Regions from separate parts of the Homo sapiens genome. Here region 2 is linked to region 1. A link means that fine-mapping ties the variant in region 1 to the expression of a gene that starts in the linked region. Tissue or cell type: lung. Region 1 holds a variant in brackets; the other region holds the start of a gene. All regions are shown on one strand. Distances are from middle to middle.

Evidence for each region.
Region 2: LINC00941 starts here. The variant in region 1 is fine-mapped to the expression of LINC00941 in lung (TOPMed, PIP 0.98).

Annotation. Positions count from the first base shown.
Region 1 is chr12:30,816,669-30,819,572 of GRCh38, forward strand. No RefSeq gene overlaps it. Among named protein-coding and RNA genes, the nearest start is that of LINC00941, 22 kb to the left of the region's middle. The variant GT/G (reference allele first, on the strand shown) is at 1,679.
Region 2 is chr12:30,794,463-30,797,366 of GRCh38, forward strand. LINC00941 (long intergenic non-protein coding RNA 941) reads left to right here and starts at 1,219. Exons shown (of 5, transcript NR_040245.1): 1 at 1,219-1,754. RefSeq lists enhancers at 1-6, 7-506, 1,009-1,508, 1,509-2,010.

The sequences.
Region 1 (2,904 bases):
ATTGCTTTGAGATAGAAATAAAGTTAAAACCAAAAGTGGCCTCACAAAAAAACTGTGCAAATATCTGTATGTAGAACTCTCTCTGACTTGTCCCTCTCACCAGGCTACAAGGAGAAGGGAGAGCTGGGAGCTGGGAGGGGAGCAGGAAGAGGGAGATCTGTGTAGGGAGGGGGAAGGGTGCCCATCCGTGACAATTGTAGGACATGTCTTTCTTCAAAATGTGGCTGCTGGAGAACCTAGACTCTGGCAACTGCGAGCTGCCCTGTGAGTCAGGTTTGGGCTTCCCCGCCTGCCTTCAGACAGGACCTGTGTCATGTGGCAGCTGGATAGCATGAGTGGAAGGACATCAGCAGAGTGGGGAACTGGGTGGTAGAGACCCTCACACCTGCCAGGAAGGTCAATGTGACTGCGAAAACACCACCAGATTGAAAATCTTCCTATATAGACCCTTGATATATCAGCCACTCCACCCCACTGGTCACTGTGGATGGGTGAACTAAACATGTCTTTCCACAAAATGGTGAGACAGCCAAGTAAAAAGTGGTCCCTGGAGAACCTCCGACTGGCCTGTGCACTGGGAGGATGGGGCAGGGCCTCAGGAAGTTCGTGCTGTTTGTAGGGGGGAGGAGCCTGGCCTCTCCTGTTCCTGGGTGGTGACCTGGAATTCAATCTGTGAGATGGGGGCCTTTTAACAGGAACCCCTTTAGCTTTGCTGAGAATCTTTTTTCTTTTTGCCCAATAAATTCTGTAACCACTCACCCTTCAAAGTGTCTGCATGCCTAATCTTTCCTGGTTGTGCGATGAGAACCTGTTTTTTTCTACAACAATGAGAAGACACAGAAGGAGCCAAAATATGCCCTTTTCTTGCCCCTATTCTCCCCACAGTCCTCTCTCTGCTGACCTTTACCCCAGAACCAGGTCTTCTTTAAAAAGCAGAATTGGCCCAGACTCTATCAGCAAGTTTTTGATTGTCCTGGGGTTTAAAGAGGGCTTCTGGGAGCCAGACAACCCTTTTCTTGGTCTCTTTGCTAAACTGATTCTAACTCCTAGAGAATGGCATTTCAATTATTCTAGGCCTGTAGGCATGGAGATACCATCATCCTCCTTTGGAACATTTATGATAATGGCTTGATGGTGCTGAAAACCCCAATTACCAGGGTTCTAGTCTATCCCTAACCTAAATTCTTATTCTATATTTTTGCCTTTAGGAGTGCTGAGTGTGCATCGTTCAGCCTCTATAAAGCAACCATCACCCTTTTGATGATTCCAAACTCCTCATTTTCAGAGTGTTCTTATTTCTCAGAAAGATTTGAACTTGGGCATGGAAAGGTCTGCTTCTCCTGTGCTGGCTCTGCTGTCTTCAGCTGGAGGGTCAGGAGACATTCTGGATGGAGAACGGCTGTCAGGGAGTGATAGGCAGCTTCACTCCAGACAAGTACCTGGAATTTGGAACCAGGGAAACGGGAGGATAAGAGACATCCTCTTGTTCTTTGACCTGATTCCCCAGTCAGCGGGAAGCCCACTGGGGGCTATAACTAACAGCTTCTGAATAGCAGGGAAATTTTCACTAATCCAAGTCAAAACCTAGAAAAAAGCCTCCTCTTTTTATCTCAAAACCATGAAAATCTTCTAGGAACAGGCAGAAAACAAACAGCTGGAGTTTTTTGTTTTTGTTTTT[GT/G]TTTTTTTTTTGCTTCTTGTGGCCATGCACATGAAGAATTACTAAAAGATCAAGATGTAGAAATAAAAGAGGCAGGGCTGCTCAGAGGACAAATAAAAATTAAGTTGATCAAATCAAAGACCTTAAGTTGTGCTTCTTCAAGTCCTTTGGTTCCTCAGCCACTGGCTGTTTTCTCCTGCCATGCAGGGGTTTTCAGGAGGGCTACAGGAGATTTGGCAATTATGTTTCACAAGGTCATAGGGAAAATTCCATTTTAGGTGGAGAGTAGACATCACCAAGCACATCATGGATGTGGTTCATTGATGTCACTATTCATTGAACTAATCTATCCTGATGATAGGCATCGTACATCAGTCTTAGACTAAATGACCAGCAGGTCAGGCTAGGAAAGATCCACTGCCCTAGATGGGGAACTCCCATCTATACCTCCTTCCCTCACAGCAGCACTGGGCAAGGTGTCCTTGTCACAGCTGACATCTTCCTTGTAGGGTGCAGGGAGGAAGGCTACTCTGGCCAGTGTTGACATTAGACAAGAAGGGAGCCTGTGGGTATGAGTGGGAAAGGTGAGGGGATCATAACTGGCAGGACCCTGGGAGTTGTGGGCAGGAGCCCACCCCATAGCCCATGCCACTGTCCAGTGAGACCTGGGAATGAAAAATTCAAAAGAGAAGGCAGCAGAAAACTTTTGAGAGAGAGAAAGATAGAGAGAGAGAGAGAGAGAGAGAAAGAGAGAGAGAGTGTGTGTGTGTTGGGTCTGTCAAAACTCCAAATTTCCATCTAGGGGCCAAATATACAGCAAGAACCAGTTGTCAGTTCAAAAGGGCCCCCATCACCATCATAACTAGAATCTTAGCAGCGCAGTGGTAGAAACCTTGGGAAACTAGAAAAAGGATGTTACCTAAAGTCAATTTCTAGAAGACCTTTATGGCAATGAAAAGGAACCAAGAAAATCTAGATGGGCTGAACTTGGAGAACCACAAAGACTCTTGTTTCTAGACTCTAGAAACAGTTAATCTGGGAGTTACTGACACTTTCTCCACTTTTTCATGAATCAGTCCATGAAAGCACAACTCATCGTCATTGAGGAATGGATGATGGTCTATTTTAATTTCTAGCTTGCTGATACAAGTGCCAAGAGGGGCTGAACACTGGGACTACAAGAGATTCAATGAGCCAATTCAGGGTGAATAGTTGGGTCCTATTTTCCCCAAAGCAGTTGCTTTTC
Region 2 (2,904 bases), 22 kb before region 1:
CAAGCGATTCTCCTGCCTCAGCCTCCCAAGTAGTTGGGATTACAGGTACCCACCACCACGCCCAGCTAATTTTTTGTATTTTTTTTAGCAGAGACAGGGTTTCATCGTGTTGGCCAGGCTGGCCAGGCTGGTCTGGAACTCCTGAAGTTAGGTGATCCACCCACCTCAGCCCCTCAAAGTGCTGGGATTACAGGCGTTATCCACTGCGCCCCACCCCAGATGCCTTTTCTATGAAGTATATCCCAGTTGGAAGTAATTTTTGTTTACCCTGGATTTCTGTACATTCACTGATTGTGCAAAGAGCTTGCCACAGGCGGCCTTGCAAGATAGTTCTCTACCTTCAAGCCTTACTTCCTCCGAAATGAGTTAGGTCCCATGACATTAGAGCCTTCGGGATATTTCTGTACAGTTCTAGTTCCTAGCATAGCGCCTTGTATTCTTTAGGTACCTGACAAATGGCCACCAACCCTCCACCGGAGAGGACTTTTTACCAAGCCTGCAGGAAGGGCCAGCTAGGCAGGCGTCTCCCTGCTTTGCCCAACAGTGAAAGTCACAGCACATTTCTCAATATTATTCACGTTAAAAACATCTTTTTCCTGCTAAATAGACACACTCTCCACCCTCTTTTAGTCAATCTTCCACAAAATTAGATAAGGAGAAATAACCCTTTGTTTCACATCCGCTGACTCAGATACGAGCATTATTCAACTGGGCGGGGGTGGCAGTGGATGGGAGGGGGCTGAGCAAACTACAAGTGGAGGAAGAAGAGGACAGCCTAGGAGAGGGAGGGCAGAAGAAAGGAGAGCACATTGTGCAGGGGCACAGTGTTTTGCTGCTCCTTTTTTTCTTTCTTTTCTTAATATGGTCCTGGCTCACAGCAAGGCCACTACCTGACAAGCAGATGAGTCACTTCCTATGGGCACAGCGGGGGTACAACTTGATAGCTACAAAACCAGACAACCTCTCGCCATGCGCTCACCCTGTTCCCAGACCCGGGTGGTGGTCTGGGGGGTTGGAAGGGGCGGGAAGGGCGCTGTCTTAAGAATCATCCTCACATCTCAGGGCTTCGCCCCTCGAGGGAGGTGACCCTTGGCCACCCTCTGCGCAGTTCTCCCTGAAAGGTCATGCCACGTCTTAGCACTCTGGTCCCTGCGCCCCTGCAGGCCTCGCGGATCCCCCACTTGTCTCGACGCAGGGGACGCCCACTTGTCTGACGCAGGGGACGTGGCTGAAGTCAGTCGGGCCGCCCGCTTGCTGCACGGCAGCCGTGGGACTGGCACAGGCTCCTCGGCAGCATTATGGGCAGCTGGTAGAGCGGCCACTTCTGAGAGCCGGATGGGCCTTCCGAGGTCGGGCCGTGCCCCGCTGGGCAGCGCAGAGGGGGTGTGTAGGGCACGCGACTTGGAGCCAGGTCCAGACCCATCCTGGCTCCTCTCAGGGCTCCTTCCCCTGCCCCCATTCCACCCCAGCCCTGCTGGCTGTCCCGCAGGACCCAGCGCCGCGGTAGCCTTCTCTGAACTGCGGCTCAGGCGGAGGTGTCACTCCTGCCTCCAGCCCAGGAGGGCAGGTCAGGTTATGCAACGCGTGCCGCGCGATCTCCCCCCACCTCCAACCCCCTTTTCTCCCGGGTCCACACCGCAGTTCCCACCGCTCCGGGTGTCCTCCCCAGTGCGCCGCGATTTTTGTGTCCAAGCCCCAGAGTCCCTCTGAGACCAACCCCCAGCCAGCACAGACTTCCTGCCTTCCCAGCTCGGGTGAGTAGCCCTGAAACGCCCGCCCCCGCCGCCCCGCGGCCGCAGCATCCTCTCGATGGCCGCGCCTCCGGGACGACGTGGTCCCCTCGAGTAGTACAGGAGCTGCAAGAGAGGCGCGCCGGGGCCAGCAAGCTCTAGAACAGCAGGAGCGGCCCCAGTTGGGACCCCGGGACGACGAGTGGCCGGCAACGCGGCGCCCGCATGGCCCAAGCAGTGTCCGGGAGGGGTCGGGGCCCCGGACTAGGGGCGCAGCGAGGACCGCCCGGAGGCTTTCCCTTGGGCAGCTAAGTCCGAGTCAGCTCTACTCGGATTTCCAGCTTCCAGCCCCGGCTCTGGTGGGGACCATGCCTAGGAGAGTAATCTGAGCTGGGGACTGGGCTCTCCTCCCGCCCCTCCCGGCCCGTGCGCCCCAGGCATGCGCTCCTCCCGCTGCTCCCTTGGCCCCCAGCGCACAGCTCCAAACCCGCGGGGCGAGCCGTCACCTTACTCTCTAGCCTTAGCCGGCCCCCAAATTTAATTTCTGCCCTGGCCGTCAAGCCATAAAAGTCGATTATAATCGCCGCCCCCCCCCGACCACCCCAACCCCCTGCCTTTGCTCTCGCCCCCGTTTCAGACTTCTCTTCTCTTCTTGAAGTCAAGCCCTCAAGTCGGGACTCTAGGAAGTCCGTTTTCTTCGTCCTAACCCCTTTGTATCCTCTCCCATCCCCACCCCTTTCACTCTGCCCTCTGGCTCTGATTTCTCGGCCTTTCCGTTTTTTCTCTCCAGGTAGAGACAGCTCCGGGCCGGGGGTGGAGGATGGTGCGGTGGGGAGGAGGCAAGGAAATTCCCAGCCTTCCTGCGCGAACCTGGGAGACCAGCAGGCACCTGGTCTCGTCCCGCTGGGTCCCCTCCGCACCCAAGACTGTCTTCCCAAGTGGCTTACTCCACAGAAGGAATGTCGTCAGCTGATTATATCTGATTAGCATCCAGTTCCGACGACTCATCCCTTAAAACGTATGCTGCCTGCATCCTCTTCTCTCTGGACCCTCCAGGACGATACCAAGTCGGGCACGCGTTTCCCCTCTTCTAGGTTCCTGCCAGCCTCATGGCCAGTCCGGGGCTTCGAGCCTCCTCTTCCCTAGTTCATCCTACATGCTCCGGCCACATTTG